Linked DNA regions of Homo sapiens: region 1 is linked to region 2. A link means that fine-mapping ties the variant in region 2 to the expression of a gene that starts in the linked region. Tissue or cell type: subcutaneous fat. Region 2 holds a variant in brackets; the other region holds the start of a gene. All regions are shown on one strand. Distances are from middle to middle.

What was found. PIP is the estimated chance that this variant, and not a neighbour inherited with it, causes the effect.
Region 1: TAS2R20 starts here. The variant in region 2 is fine-mapped to the expression of TAS2R20 in subcutaneous fat (FUSION, PIP 0.95).

The regions. Positions count from the first base shown.
Region 1 is chr12:10,994,245-11,002,622 of GRCh38, forward strand. TAS2R20 (taste 2 receptor member 20) reads right to left here and starts at 4,060. Exons shown (of 1, transcript NM_176889.4): 1 at 1,717-4,060. The coding sequence starts at 3,631. The coding sequence ends at 2,702. The region is part of intron 3 of PRH1-TAS2R14 (PRH1-TAS2R14 readthrough); the gene reads right to left. The region is part of intron 3 of PRH1-PRR4 (PRH1-PRR4 readthrough); the gene reads right to left. It also overlaps a transcript of PRH1 not described here.
Region 2 is chr12:11,370,099-11,378,476 of GRCh38, forward strand. No RefSeq gene overlaps it. Among named protein-coding and RNA genes, the nearest start is that of PRB2, 21 kb to the right of the region's middle. The variant C/T (reference allele first, on the strand shown) is at 3,767.

The sequences.
Region 1 (8,378 bases), 380 kb before region 2:
CTTTCATAACCTCCATCAAGGGATTGGATGATGGAAAGCAGAACAGCAGAGATGGTAGTTCTGCCTCAGGGAAACCCTGGCCAGTGGGAAATAGAAGACAGAAGACAGCTGAGCAGATATATTCTCCGTCCTCTGTTGCTTCCATGGGCTAATGCTGGCTGTGTTGTCCTCTCGCAGCCCTTCTGAAAAAGTCCTGGGAGCCAAGTGCATGCATCTGATAACCACCATGCTGTCTCTCTCACATCATTGTGAAGTGGTCGTCAGCAGAGTCATATCACACATTACAGCACATAGTGTCACATCTTCTCTTGACTCAATTTCCACATGTCCCAGCCATTTCTGCAGTGGACCTCCTTCCAAATAAATGTCATCACTTTAATATCAGACATTTGCTCTACTTCTAGACCCCTGATAAGATATTCATTCAGTGTTATAATTATTATTCATTCATTTTTCCATCAGTTTATAATATGGTGATTAAAGTGGTCATTTAGAAAGGATATTAAAAATACTAAATAAAGATTATATTTTAGTAAGATAGTTGGTAACTAAATTTTTTAAATGAAATGTCATTTTTGTTTATATAATAACCAGCTAGAAATACCACAATATAAATATATCATTCGCAATAGAAAAGATATGTGCACTTATACAAAAATCTTTTATATGCTTAGTAAAAAGTATTGTAATAAATGCCATCTTTTTATTTTCCACTTTGTCTTTGTGTCACACATCTGATATAGCTGCATCACTGCTATATTATAGTGATATTTCCCCTAGAATTGTGGAATAGCCAAACTTTTGCTCTGAGAAATTCTTCTTCTTCTTGGATAATCCTGTAACTTCAATCTGAAACCAGAACAGAAATGTGCACCCAACTGTAGATTTTGTGATGTGTTACATTTTCATTGGTTCACCACCCCAATATAGTTCATATTCATTCATTCACCAATTAACTTGTTCATCAAAGTATCATTTTTCAATACCTATTCTATGTGCTATCTTTATGTCTTGGGAGTCTACAGTAAGCAAGATCTATATGATCTCTACTTTTATGGTATTTACATTGTACCAGGTAAGATATATGATAAACAAACAAATCAGATGTGGAGATGATTTATCTTAAGGTTTAGATAATATTGTTAAAATTGCATAACACCAGAAATTAATACAGTCACACAGAATTTAGCTGTTGAACTAGGTTATACATTTTCTTCTTGTAATAGAACTTGCTATTAGTGAATATGTCAACACACTTTCTCTCATTTCATTATTTACACCAAGATTATAATAAAACATATCTTTAAGACATTTCCTATCATTAATATATAGATTTCATAGATGCCATAGTTTCTATACCCTCTTTAGATTGAGCTTCTTTTTAAAGTAAGGAAAATTTGAGCTTTTTGAGGAATTTTAAGGATGGAAGATAAAGGAGGAAATTGACAATTCAGGAGCTCAGAGGTGGCTTAGACAAAAAACTGAAATATATAACATCAGATCTCAACTTCAAAAAGGTTTTTGTTTAATTCAAAAACTGGAAGAGATGACTTTTCTAATTGCGTATGGAAACTTATAACAGCACTGAAAAGAGCTCATGATCATGTTTCTTCATCCTTTTTATAGAAATGATTTTTTCTAAGCTATTAACATACTATATTAAATATAATATTCCTCAGTATTGCTTTTGATACACATAAAAATGTACACTAGATATATTTTTCACCCTTGAATTTTATTTTGTGCATTGTTATCTAACAATAATTGTATTTGCTTTATATTAAACATAAAATAAGAATTCATCATGAATGTCTATAATCCCAGCACTTTGGGAGGCTGAGGCAGTGGATCACTTGAGGTCAAGAGTTCGAGACCAGCCTGGCCAGCATGGTGAAACCCCATCTCTACTAAAAAAAAAAAGAAAAATACAAAAAATTAGCCACGTGTGGTAGCGCATGCCTGGAGTCCCAGCCACTCAGGAGGCTGACGCATGGAAATCACTTGAACCCCAGAGGTGAACGTTGTGGTGAGCCAAGATTGTGCTACTGCATTCCAGCCTGGACAACAGGGCAAGACTCCATCTCAAAAAAAAGAAAAAAAGAATTCATGATTAAAAAAAAAACAAAAAAACCTACCCCAAAGACACATTCTCATCGATTTAGAATTAAATGTCCTTACCATCCAAAAAATTAGAGGTTCAAACAATGATAGTTAAACAGTTAAACACACTATGGTACATATACGTGATACAAATTACAACGAAAAACAGCAATGATTTTACAACGAAAAACAGCAATGATTTTCTGATATAAGCTGTCAGTTCTTAATTATAAATAGAGATCATAAATTCCTCAAATGAAATATCATATAAAAAAATGTGTGAAATACACATGGGTTCATAATTCTGAGAAATTTCTTATCCTACTTTGGTATAACTGAACAGTTTATATGAAAAGTTGATTAAAGGTATGTTATGGTAAATATTAAATTTTCATATACATTCAGACATACACACACACGCAAATGTATATTATATATATATACTTTTATATAATAAACTTAGGTAAAAGACTTTTCTATGTCAACTTTTGGAAATTACTCAAATACATAGACTACGGAAAAACTTGTGGGAAATATAAAATGTTCCAGACACCATCAATTTGTTTTCTGCTAGAAAACACACAATGCACCTCTTGTGAATCTATGGAGTTGACTGGTTCTGTCCTTTTGCCCAGCAAGTCACCTGCCACAAAACTGAAAGAAAGGTCTGCTTTAGCGTCTTGTTCCCCCAAATCAGAATGAATGAGTGGAATGATGGATATATGATTCCAAAAGCTTGGCAAAGCATTAAGACAATTTCTTTTGGTCGCATCTTAAAATTCCAAAACGATATGATTAGACACAGAAAGTAAATGGCAAGTAATATGAGGAAGGAGGTCACAGTTTGCAGAGCTTTTATGTGGATCTTGGTGCTGGGATCTTGAGATCCTTTGCCATGGAGCTGCATCTTCTTCAGATGTTTACACAGAGAGTAGATTAACAGCAGAAAAGATATCAGGGTCAGAGTGAATGGTATCAAGTTTGCTAGCATGGCTACAGTCAAGTTGGAAAGGTGCATTGCATTCCTCAGTTTGATCTTCCAAGTTACGTTTCCTTCACATTCTTCTGTCCACACATTTATATACGTGTGTTTCATCACAAGGTGACAAACCAAAAAGAACAAAGACCCCAACACTATCACCAGAACTACACTCTTAGCCTTCCTTTTTAAGTGATGAAAAATAAGTCTGGAGAAATTGACGATCTTGAGCAAATAAAATATGCTGAGGCTAGTAGCAAGCCAGATGCTGAAATGATTGGTTACTGCCCAGGCATTAGAAATAAAAATTATTACTTTTAAATTAGATGAAGTTGGATTCAACACAGTTGAATACCAATGTAATAATATTACCCAGAGCAAACCAACTCTGGAGACTGCCAGAGCAGCAATAATTTGATCAGCTGAGGAGATCTTTTGTCTCTTGACCCAGGCAATGAAATTTATCAGTGCTATAAAGCCATTGGCAAAATTTCCAAGAATAAATGCAACCACTACTAGAATGGAAAAAACAATGTGTAGAAAACTCATCATGTCTAAACAAAAAAGCAAGTAAAAAATTCAGGCCTAATGTCACTGATGGTGACTCCTCTGATATTCAAGACTTTAAGTTAAATATGCACTTGATTCCTGAATGTCCAATAACATTCTTTATACTTTTAAATTCTGTGAACAATGTCAACAGAAAAGCACCAGCTTAAACTAATGAATGAGTTCAATGCTGCCTTTATGGGAAATACTGTTAGTCCCAAAACAACTCAAATTAATTCTTATTCATAAAGTCTCTATTCTTGCTATAGGCTGAAATTTTTCATACTGATGTTGAAGGGAAAGCTGAATTCTCATTTGCTAGCATTCAAATAAAGACATATCCTCTTTCATTGCTTTGCAATTTTTTCCTTGTTTCACCTTTCCATAATTTGTGTTCAGCCCTTCAGTTGTTGGGGAAATTTTAATACCCAGTACATAGATGACACAAAAAATATATTGTTAAAAGAGCCTGGTGAAATCTAGGATCAAAATCACTATGGATTTATTTTTAAAGCCAGATTTAAATACACAGAATCTAAACTTTTTATCAAAATCACCTAAGATTTTCTTGGAAACCACAGGAAAGCCAATACTCCTTATAATTTGGTTGCTGTTAACCAATACTTCTATATGGCATCACTATTAACAAGCTCATAAACACACACACAGACACACACACACTTTCACTCTTCAAGGATGGAAGGAATTGCTTTCTTGTAACTTATGACATGGAAAATGAGTTTCCAGGAGCTCGTCCTGGTGGAATTAGTCCTATTTTTCCCATGCCAGATTTTCAGCCAATGAATAATATTCATGAAACATATCTCTCATGCTTAGGCTTTTGGTAATGCTACCTGCAAGCTTGTAAACATTCCTGAGTACCAGACCTTTGTCACATAATTTTGCAGTGTCCTCCCACCACAGGCATAGTGACAACCTTGCACTAGGGCTCTGAGTTCGATCATGTAATTTGCTTTGATGAACAGAAAATTACTACACTTTACATCGAAATTTGAGATGACCTCCACATTAGGCTTTCTTGTTCCTTTCCGGTTTATAATGAGAACATGTCCACACTAACACACTGTTCCCAGAATAAGAATGAGTAACTCATGGAATCATATGGCTCCTGCCTGATCCAGCCTTAAATCGGCCAAACTCTAACTAGATCCAAGAGGCAAAACTTGGACCATCTCAAATCACCAGAGCCATCCACCAAACCCCAGCTTAAGAAAACAGAATCCAAAAACATGTGAGATATAAATATCTAATGTGGTTTTGGAGAAGTTTCTTTTGCAGAAAAAGCTAAGTGATATAGGTACTCTGCTAATCCAAGAGTTTGAGAAATATGTGCGCCCTTGTTGTGTCAGAAATTCAGGAGCCAAAGGAAAAATAGGTTGGAAATATCAAAGTTTTTGTAATATGAGGTGAATATCTAAAACTAGAAGAAAACTTTTGGAAAGATCTGGAGGCTGTAGGTAACAGCATCTCAAATTTCTCCATTTTGCAACTAAAATAAGAATTCACTTTAGCTCTCTTGAGTTGTATAAGAATGTACGTAAATGGTGGATTTTCCCCCTAGGTATATAATGAGCAGAGCAATTAATAATTTTTACGTGACATTTCTCCCAATTTGTAATTTTTTAAATAAAATTATAATGCACACTTAGAAATGGGCCAAAACAAAAATAGGTAAGAGCAATGTATCATAAACACTTATGTAACCATCATGCAGGATAAGACATGGAACACTGCAAACAGACTAGGTCCACTTCCAGGCCACTTTCCAAGCCCCTAAACCTTTATTCACATCTCCTGAGATAAGCAATATTCATAATCTATGATGATCATTTGCTTGAATTTCTTTATACTTTACCAGCTAGGTTCACAACCCTAAACTCCACAGCTTGGTCTGTCCTGCTTTGAACTGTGTATAGGTGCAGTCCTGTGTGTTCTTCTTGTTCATGGCTTCTTGCACTAGATATCATGTTTCTGAAATTTAGTTACATAGTTGCATGTACATGTGATTCATTTCTTTTCACCTCTATATACTGTTCCACTGTATGGATTTACTGTAATCTTTCATATCATTCAATCATCCTTAGTTAATATATATTTGGGCAGTCTATTTTTGAGCTATTATGAATAATACTACTATCAGCATTATTTCACATATCATTTGATGCAATTCCTATTATGGGGTCATTAAATGTGGTGTTCAAATTATCCTCACAGACATAGAAAAGTGCAAAAAATAATTTATCTAAATTTGTTCCTGTCACCTTTACCTCCAGTCTCTTTATCGCTATTTGCATATATCTTATCAATAATATATTTAACTCAGCAAGACGCTATTATTTTATTCAGTCAACATTCATTTAGAATTATGCACATATTTATCATTTCTGTTAATTTTTATTCCTTCTTGCATGCTTAACCTTGTATTTTCAATATTTTTTATCTGAAAAATATCATTTGGATTTCTGTTTATGAAGGTCCTCTATTCTTTTGAAACACACTAAAGACATGATTCCATTGAATTCTACTTTCCATTTTTCTGTTGAAAATCAGGTTGTCATTTAGAAAGTTGTTCCTTTTAAAATAATCTATCTTTTCCTCTGGCTACTTTTCAGATTTTCTACTGGTCTTTGATGTCTTGTGACATTTTATGTTAATTTGTTTTTAGTTATCTTGTCTGACCTTTGATGGTTACTAAAAATATATGGATTAATACATTTTATCACTTTTGGGAAAATCTCCACAACATTGATTCTGCCCTATTTTATCCCTTTTAATCTTCCAGAAATCCAGAAGTATGTTAGATGCTCTGATTGTAGCATCAATGCCTCTTATCCTCTTAGCTTGGCATTCTTTGTCTTGTGGTCTCTTTAGGCTTCTTTCTTTATAGTTGTCTTCCAATTCACTAATTCTCTCTTCTATGTCTAACTGGTTGTTAACTCTGTCTATTGGATTCTCAATATTGATTATTTATTTTTTGCTATTATTGTTTTAGTAGCAGAAATTATATTTTGTTCTCCTTCTATAAATCATTATCTATGGAGAAGCAGAACAAAGCACTCTTACCACCAAGTTTTTTAAAAAAAGTTGGGTTCTTTGTTCAGTTGGTTGGCTTTGTTTTTTTGTTTTTCGTATGCTTGACATGAAAATGCTAACAATTTTCTTCTTTTCCCAAGACTTTGGTCACAAAATAGAATAAAAGCTTGGTCTACACATCCTTCCGCAAGTTGGAAGAACCTGGAAATTGATGTGATGTTAGTAGCTTTTTTTTTTAGGGGGGGATAGCAGCTTGTCTGTTGATGAGTCTTCACCACAAACTCTCCCCACAGGGAAATTCAATGAGCTGTGCTGGATCTCAAGATGCCATTCCAATAAATAAATTATAGCACCTCAACCCTAGCTACACCATTCTATTTTACAAATTAAATTTTACTCTTTTTTTATTAGCAGAAGTGGAGCTCTGTACCTTCAAACTTCTTCACTATCAGGTGAGATATAGAAGATGTGAGGGCTTACTTCTATTTGATTTATTTAGTCCTAAAATTCTCACTTTAGATGTGCCAGCAACCTGTGTGGGCTGATGACTTGGGGCAGGATGGGAGAATGCCAGGGGATAGATGCACAAAGGACTGGACACCTCCTTGCCTCCTCCCATCCTCCTCAAAACTTCAGCACAACTCTGAAGCAAAGTGTGCTTGTGGGAGAACCCAGAGTTGCTTAAGATTTAATTTCTGCCATCAGGTTAATGGAGCACCTAGGGAAATTAAGCTGAGTTTTAAAAATATCCAGAAAGTTAAATTTGTTGTACATGTGAGTTTCTGAACTGCGATTAGGCTTTACTTTACCTGGCATCAGGGAGTGTTATAAATCAATTATTTAAATATTCATGTAAGGTGTAAAAAGGAGTAGAAGTACACGTATCAAATTTCCATAAATAAACTTTGCAATATAAACGTAATTTATACTATTAATTCTTTGTCAATAAAATGTGGAAAGGTTAAAAAATAAATAAAATAAAACCTTCACTTTAGAAGTAAGAGCTTGATCATGAAGTGGCTTATTTATCTTTCTAATTAAGGAATTTTATTAACACCGCAACTAAATCTTTCCTATAGTGTTCCTAAGATCAGTTTAAGGTTATCTATAATGATTTGCTTAAGCAATGTATTTTAAACTAAACTATACTTAAAAATGTATTTGGTTCAACTTGAAATTTTCCATTTTCTAATCTAACTTTCCCATAATAATAATCTTTTAAACATTTATTAGACATTATCCAAATTATTTATGTAAACATTTCAAAAATAAATCATTTAATGAGATAGATATAGATGATGATTGGTGATGATGATAATGTCAGTTAAAAGGGGCCATGCTCTTCTATAAATGTGACTTCAATCATGTTTTCTAAGTGCTGCGTTTCAGGGTGATGGGCTCATGAACTTGTTTCTTATATTATTCTCAGCATCAGGCACAGACAAAGATCCTCAGACAGTATTTCATTAAGAATAAGTTAAAACCAATGTATTTCCAATGATTTACTGGCTATTTTTTTTTCTTTTACCACATTCTGAAAATCATGACAAAAGTGCCCTACAACAAAGAGTATTCTCCTTTGGGCTGTTTAATTTTCACTGTACTTTCATATGAACTTCATATATACAAATCCTCTATACAATTATATAGCATACAAACTGTATTTTATCTTTTAATAGTATCATTAGCAGGCAAA
Region 2 (8,378 bases):
CCTTTTGGTCAGTTGAAGCTCTCAGCAATCCACTTGCCTTCTAATATGGATGCAAACATAACATGTCCCAAATAAGATCCTTGATTTCTGCATCCTAAACTGCTCTCCCCTGATGTAGTTTGTTATCTCTGCCCTTAAAAAAAACAAAACACACTGTGTAATTTGAACAACAGAAATTAATTTTCTCACAGTTCTGGAGGCTCACATTCCATGATCAAGGTGTTAACAGGTTCATTTCTTCTAAGATGTCTCTTCTTGGATTTGACTTGGTTAATTTAGTTTTTTGTCTTCAAACACCTTGATCATTTACTTTCTGAAAAACTTTCACAGTCTATAAGGTCTTTTTTCAAATTTTAGACTTATATATGTTAGTTCTGAAATTTCTATTTTATTATTTTCTATAGTTCCTTTTTCTGCTGAGAAGCTTTTTCCCATTTATTTTGAGAGTGTTCACATTTACCTCAGAAAAGTTGGCTATAAGAGCTGCTTTAAAGTCTGATCATTTCCATATCCAAGTTGTTTCAAGGTTGTCGTATCTTGATTATACCCTTCATTAACAGTTGGTCAATTGTTTACGGTTTGTAAAAGTATATTGAGTAATTTTCAATTTTATGCCTCACATGGGCATTTTTCTGTGTTTACAATACACAAAAAGTTCAACAAGGCAAGCTTTGGACATTGAAGGGTGGAGGCACTCAGGCTGCATCGTGATCCACCCACTGGCTCCACTGGCAGAAGAGTTAATCCCACTGACGTTATTCTGCTTGAAGCTTCTATGTGGATGATTCTCCTTGGCTCTTATGAGATAAGAGTGTAAGTATTTCACATAATACACACTTATAAAATTAAAAACACAGAAAAGTGTGCTGAATGGGTCCCAAGGGCCTTATCCACAATGTCTTCCTAACTTTTCATGTTTTGTACCCCATTTTCTCAAAGCTCAATTGAACTCAAGGACTTCTTTTTTCTTTTCCTCTACAAGAACCACAGAGTTTAACATTGGCTTCTTAGAGGCTATCCCAGTAGCCAGGCAGCCCTGCTCTCTTCTGATGGGGATTTACAGAATGCAGGAAAATGAGGCTGAGGTAGAAAGAGTGACTATACACCCAGCATGCTGGCTCATGACTGTAATCCCACTACTTTTGGAGGCTGAGATTGGAGGATTGTTGATGTCAGGAATTCAAGATCAGCCTGAACAATATAGCAAGATCTCCCCATGTATACAACAAAATTTACAAAATCAACCTCGCATGGCGATTGGCACTTGTAGTGCCATCTAATTCAGAGGGTGATCTGGAAGAATTGCTTGATCCCAGGAGTTCAAGACTGCAGTGAGCCATGATTGCACCACTGTACTCCAGCTTAAGTGAGAGAACAAGTCCCTGTCTCTAAAAAGAAATAATAATACTAATAATAACAATAATAATAATAAATGACTACTGCAACTGAAAAGCTTTTTTCCCCCCACCTTGGCTTCTAGCCCCAGGGTCTACCTCGTTTAAACACAACTCCAGTGTCTATGGATTCAACAGACTTGCAGTCTCTTCCTTTCTTTCCCCTTATATGCCACTGTAGCTCTTTCCTGTATCCTCAGCACACCTTCCCCTACTCTGACAGAATCAAGTACAATGGTGAATTGAGCAAGTATAGGCAATAGAGCTATAAATACTTATGTTTCTACCCTCCTTGATATTTTTGCAAGATTTGGAGATGAGTACGTAGGGCCTTTAGTCCTTTTTGAGCCAGGTCATCTCAGGCCCAGCCCGAATCCTTAAAGGAACTGAGATCCGAGTAGAGGAAAAGAAGTGATAAGAGAGATGTGAACAAAGTGTCTTCATGCAAGTAAGTAAGACACATTTACTGTCTAATTCAAGCATTGTAGTCACAGCCTAAGACTCAACTGAATAAACACGTGAATTTTAAGTCTCCCCAAAGGTGTGCAACAGCTTTGGGGCATCTTTAACCCTTTACCTCCTGTTGTCTTTGGAATAGAGCAAAAACTAAAGTGTTACATGGGAAGTTTCCTTCAATTCTACCACCTGGTACTCAGTTTACAACCATTTCCCAATCCTACTTGTTAATGAGCTATATAAAAAGACACAAATTATTGACCACTTGTCATACATTTTGGTCAACATGCCAGCTATTGATATGTATTTTTTACATTATTAACTGAAGGAAAATGGATGCCTTTTACAAATGTTATAAGATTACAAAACAAAAAAAAATGAAAGAAACCAAATTAGGGTTGTAATATGTCCAAAATTGTTTTCTTCCAGTTGGTTCTTGGTCTCGCTGACTTCAAGAATGAAGCTGCGGATGCTTGCAGTGAGTGTTACAGTTCTTAAAGATGATGTGTCCATAGTTTGTTCCTTCAGATGTGCAGATGTGTCTGGAGTTTCTTCCTTCCAGTGGGTTCTTGTTCTCACTGACTTCAGGGGTGAGGCTGCAGACCTTTTCAGTGAGTGTTACAGCTCTTAAAGCTGTGTCCAAAGTTGTTTGTTCCTCCTAGTGGGTTGATGGTCTCACTGACTTCAGGAATGAAGCCGCAGACCCTCTCGTGGGTGTTACAGCTCATGAAGGTAGTGCAGACCCAAAGACTGAGCAGCAGCAAGATTTGTTGTGAAGGGCAAAAGAACAAAGCTTCCACAGCATGGAAGGGGACCCAAACAAGTTACCACTGCTGGCTCAGTTGGCCAGCTTTTATTCCCTTATTTGGCCCTGCCCACATCCCGATGATTGGTATATTTTGCAGAGTGCTGATTGGTCCATTTTGCAGAGTGCTGATTTGTCCATTTTACAGGCTGCTGATTGGTGCGTTTGCAATCTTTTAGTTAGACACAGAGTGCTGATTGGTTCATTTTTACAGAGTGCTGATTTGTGCATTCACAATCCTTTAGCTAGACAGAGAGCACTGATTGGAGCATTTTTATAGAGTGCTGATTGGTGCATGTACAATCCTTTAGCTAGACACAGAGGGCTCATGGGTGCATTGTTACAGAGTGTGGATTGGTGCATTTACAGTCCTTTAACTAGACCCAGAGCACTGATTGGTGCATTTACAATCATCTAGCTAGTCAGAAAAGTTCTCCAAGTCCACAGTGGACCCAGGAAGTCCACCTGGCATCACTTCTCAGTAATGTGAAAGCCTAATGATTTACCATGAGAACTCTCATATAATTGCCCTGTTTGATAAGAGAAATGAGCAGGAGGAAGGTTGTGGTGAAGGACTCTGCTGAAGCTTTCCCAGGGATTCATCTAGTAAAGCTTTGACTTTCTCAAAATATTCTCAGAATAAGGAGATACTGTCATTCTCCAGAAAGTCAACCAGCAAAATGACTTGAGCTTTCCAATAAACTCTTGCCAAGATCTTTGTGCTCTCCTCATCCACTTTTGTTTTGACTGGACATTTCCGCCTCTTGGTAGCCATTGCTTTGATTGTATTTGTTTTCTGGATTTTACTGGTAAAGTCATGTGTTATCTCCTCTTATAATTCATTGAAGAAATGCTTATGGTCTTCGTTCTTCCTATTTAAATTTTTAGGGAAAGTTCTGCTCTTGTCTGTACTTGATCTTGGTGACACAGTTTGGGCATCCATTAAGTGAAAAGCTTACTAAACTTTAATCATTCAGTTAGATTCATGTAAACTGAACCAACTGAGAAGTCTGCAGTGTTGGTTATTGTGTGAGCTGCTAATCATCACACCTCTTCTCCTGGGTATAAAGAAGATGAATTTATTCCTTGCAATATGATGTGAATCATCTGT[C/T]ACGATAAGCTTTAGGTTCAACATTGCCTCATTCCTTCTTGAAATGAACTCCTCATTGAATTTGTGAACTGCTGACTTCTTCAACCAATGTCAACTTACCACGTGTCAAGTAGGACAACTCTTTGGACACCATCAATGATTTTGCCTTCCTCCACCCAAGCTTCACCATAAATTTGATGTTTATACTCACTTTAATTTTAGAAAAATTCATGTTGGTCTTCTAGGGGCTCTTTTGAAACTGCTCTTATTTTTCTTGATGCCTCATACTAGCTCCTGTTCAGACATGTTATAGCAAAAGATTATGATTTCATTTTGGTGCCAAAACATTGGAATCCATTCATGGTGTTTCTTAATAGGATATACCTTTTCCTTCAACATTTGAACAACCCACTGCATATAGGAAGGCATCCTGATACAATAAGCTCTACTAGAGGTAACTTAGAATTTTGCAGCTGACTAGGCAGATTGCTGTCTTGTTTTTCTCTTAGGATAAATAGGGATGTTTTCTGAAGATGGAATATAATACCAGTGGCCAAATATTCTCCAGTTACATAGAAAGTTTAACATTTGTAACTGAGATTCACATTCTTTCAGAGAGACACAGAGTGCTTGGGCCAATCTGGTGTCCTGATGTTATTGAATGATTTTCTCTGGTTTCACCAAACATTGTTTGAAAAGGAAGCTGTTGATGGGCAGTCTGGCCTAGGTAGCTTATGGTGGCCCATCAGGAAGGAAAGAAACGCAAGAGAGAAGAAGCAGAGGGGAGAGCCAGGCAGATGTGACTCCTTGTGGGAATCAGTGGGGAAGCTGCAGTCCTGGTTAGAGACAGACTTCTCCTTGTCTGCTGAGTACAGCAAGGCAAGAGGTGATCCTTCCAAATATCACTCAACTCATGCCCTGACCTTCTCCTATGTCAGAAATGAGTGAAAGAGATTAGCATATCAGGAAGGACTAAATATCAGATATCAAGCTACCAGAGACAAGCAAAATAGAGGTTACCAAAGAACTGATGGAGACAGTGTCACTGATTTAGGATGGGGTAAAAGCAAGGAGCAAGATGGCAACAAAAGCTTAGGCATTTGTCCATGAGTCAAGGACGTCAGCAATCCACTTGCCATTTAAAATAATGTAACCATACCGTTTACATTACACTCCTGCACTAAGCAGGACTCTTAATTTCTGCCTCCTAAAACCTGCTCTCCCCTGAATTTCTTCATTATACCTGTCCAAGCAAAATATCACAGACTAATATTCTTAAGCAACAGAAATTATTTTCCGACACTTCTGGATGCTCAAGTTCCACGGTGAATGTGTCAGCAGGTCCAGTTCTTCTTGGCCCTGTCTACTTGGCATCTAGATATCACCTTCTTGCTGTGTCCTCCCATGGGGCTGCGTCTGTGCCTACGTACTTCTTGTGTCTCTCTGTGTGCAAATTTCCAGTTCTTATAAGGAATTTCCACTTTTTCTAAGGACATTCATCTTATTGGATTTAGTTCCACTGAAACTCCCTCATTTTAGCTTGATCACCTCTTCTTAGGGCTATTTTCTGAACACAATCATATTCTAAGGAACAAGAGGTAGGTTGGCTGTGGAGTTTTGTATACCTATGCCTATCATATTTCGCTAAATATTTGATTATATAGAGGTTATGTCTTTAGAACTTTGAGCTATGTGCAGACAACACAAACCTGGCCATTCATGGCTGACAGAAGGTTGGCCCTCAGCCCGGTCGGACCCACACAGATTGTCCAATATTCCTTGGATCTGGCTCCGATCAGAAAAGTCTCGGTGTTTTAGGATACAGGTGTCTTAACGAATTCTATTATTAATATTCGTGGAGAGGTTAAAACAAAGTTGGACACAAAATCTACCAGAGGTTTCTAGAAATGAACAGAATGAATAGAAGTTCTTGAATGAGCCATCCTACTTCATGTCTTTAAGAATTTTTTCTTGCTCTTCCCCTTTATTAGAATGTTTGATCAGATACAGTTTGGACTTTATGTCTTACAAGATTATATATATATAAATATAGGCTCTCGCTCTGTCACCCAAGCTGGAGGGTGGTGTCCTGATCATGGATTCCAGCATCCTAGAACTCCTGTGCTCTTGGGATTCCCCCCACTTCAACCACTTGAGTAGCTTGAATTACAGGTTCATGACACCCACCATGCCCGTTTATTATTTTTTAATTTATTTAAAAATTTTTTGAAGAGATGGATCCACAATTTGTTGCTCAGGCTGGTCTTAAACTCCTGGCCTCAAGGGATCCATCCAACTCACCCTCCCAAAGTCCTGGGATAACAGACATGAGTCACTACATTCAGTTATTCTTCTAGGAAAAATTTTTAATCACTCCCACTTACAATGAGTGGCCACAATTATATATCCCAATAAGATAGTCAGGAACCCACATAAAAGCCTCAAGGGTATTGCACTGATCTATTTCTTAGTACATGTGCTGTCTCCCAGATTCTTCTTCCAAACAGAAATTTTTTTTATTTTTGCAATATTCTGAAACTAATTTCTCAAGACTCGCTTTCTAAAATGTATTTGTTGACATTTTCTGTTCTAAATAATCTTCCCTGTGTTTATTTTTCATCTTATGTCTGGCTTCTTTATAAATACATTTTGGGAATTTTCTTAAATCGACTCTTCTAAGTAAGCATCTATAATTCTTCTTACTCCTTTCATTTTATGTTTGTTTTTAAAATTTGGATCAATATACTGTATTTCCAAAGTATTTTTACTGAGTTTGTGTTGGTAGCTCTCTTTTCATCCACTGACTTCTCTGTTATATCAAGTAGTTTCTGCCCATCATTTCATCTTTTTATGGAAAATGCAGGTTAGTCAGTATTAACAGCTGCCACTTATCATTTCAGGCCTCGAATAACTTTTGTGACATCATTCAGTTTTGGCTCAGGGATAGTGATAACTTCAGGATACCTCGTTAAAGGCATTGTGTGTGGGTCTGCCACTGGAAATCCTAAACACAGGCCACTTGATCATTTTGATGAGAGGATCCTGTGTTGTACACATTAGAATCTGATCCTGCTCTTCCAGATGGGTTTGAAATACAAGGGATTTCAAAAACTTTGTGGAAGAATGCAATTACAATATGAAATTAGACATTATATAAACTTTATTTCTTAACATAACCTCCACCACATTCAAGAAGGTTTGCAAGTAATGATACAAATAATTTAGCCTATCTATAAAGAATTGAGGGTCCTGAGAATTTCACCATATAAATGCAGTCTTTTCAAATTATTAACTGAAGAAAACAGCATACACATTAAAGTATTTTTATCTTAGAAAAAAAACAAGTCTGAGGAACAGCTCCAGTCTACAGCTCCCAGCGTGAGCGATGCAGAAGACAAATGATTTCTGCATTTCCAACTGAGGTAACAGGTTAGTCTCACTGGGGATTGTCAGACAGTGGGGGCAGGACAGTGGGTGCAGCCCACCAAGCATGAGCTGAAGCAGGGCAAGGCATTGCCTCACCCGGGAAGTGCAAGGGGTCAGGGAATTCCCTTTCCTAGCCAAGGAAAGGGGTGATGGATGGCACCTGGATTATCAGGTCACTCACACCCTAATACTGTGCTTTTCCAATGGTCTTAGCAAACAGCACACCAGGAGGTTGTATCCCACACCTGGCTCACAGGGTCCTATGCCCATGGAACCTTGCTCATTGCTAGCAAAGCAGTCTGAGATCAAACTGCCAGGCAGCAGTGAGGCTGGGGGAGGAGCTCCCACCATTGCCAAGGCTTGAGTAGGTAAACAAAGCGGCCAGGAAGCTCGAACTGGGTGGAGCCCACCGCAACTCAAGGAAGCCTGCCTGTCTCTGTAGACCCCACCTCTGGGGGCAGGGCATAGCCAAACAAAAGGCAGCAGAAACCTCTGCAGACTTAAATGTTCATGTCTGACAGCTTTGAAAAGAGTAGTGGTTCTCCCAGCATGCAGCTTGAGATCTGAGAACATACAGACTGCCTCCTCAAGTGGGTCCCTGACCCCCAAGTAGCCTAACTGGGAGGCATCTCCCAGTAGGGGCAAGCTGACACCTCACATAGCCAGGTACTCCTCTGAGACAAAACTTCCAGAGGAAGGATCAGGCAGCAACATTTGCTGTCCACCAATATCCGCTGTTCTGCAGCCTCCACTGCTGATACCCAAGTAAACACGGTCTGGAGTGGACCTCCAGCAAACTCCAACAGACCTGCAGCTGAGGGTCCTGACTGTTAGAAGGAAAACTAACAAACAGAAATGACATACACACCAAAACCCCATCCGTACGTCACCATCGTTAAAGACCAAAGGTAGATAAAACCACAAAAATGGGGAAAAAACAGAGCACAAAAAATAAAAATTCTAAATATCAGAGTGCCTCTCCTCCTCCAAAGGAATGGAGTGCCTTGCCACCAGTGGAACAAAGCTGGACAGAGAATGACTTTGAAGAGTTGAGAGAAGAGGGCTTCAGACAATGAAACTACTCCAAGCTAAAGGAGGAAGTTCAAACCCAAGGCAAAGAAGATAAAACCTTGAAAAAAGATGAGATAAATGGCTAACTAGAATAATCAATGCAGAGAAGTCCTTAAAGGACCTGATGCAGCTGAAA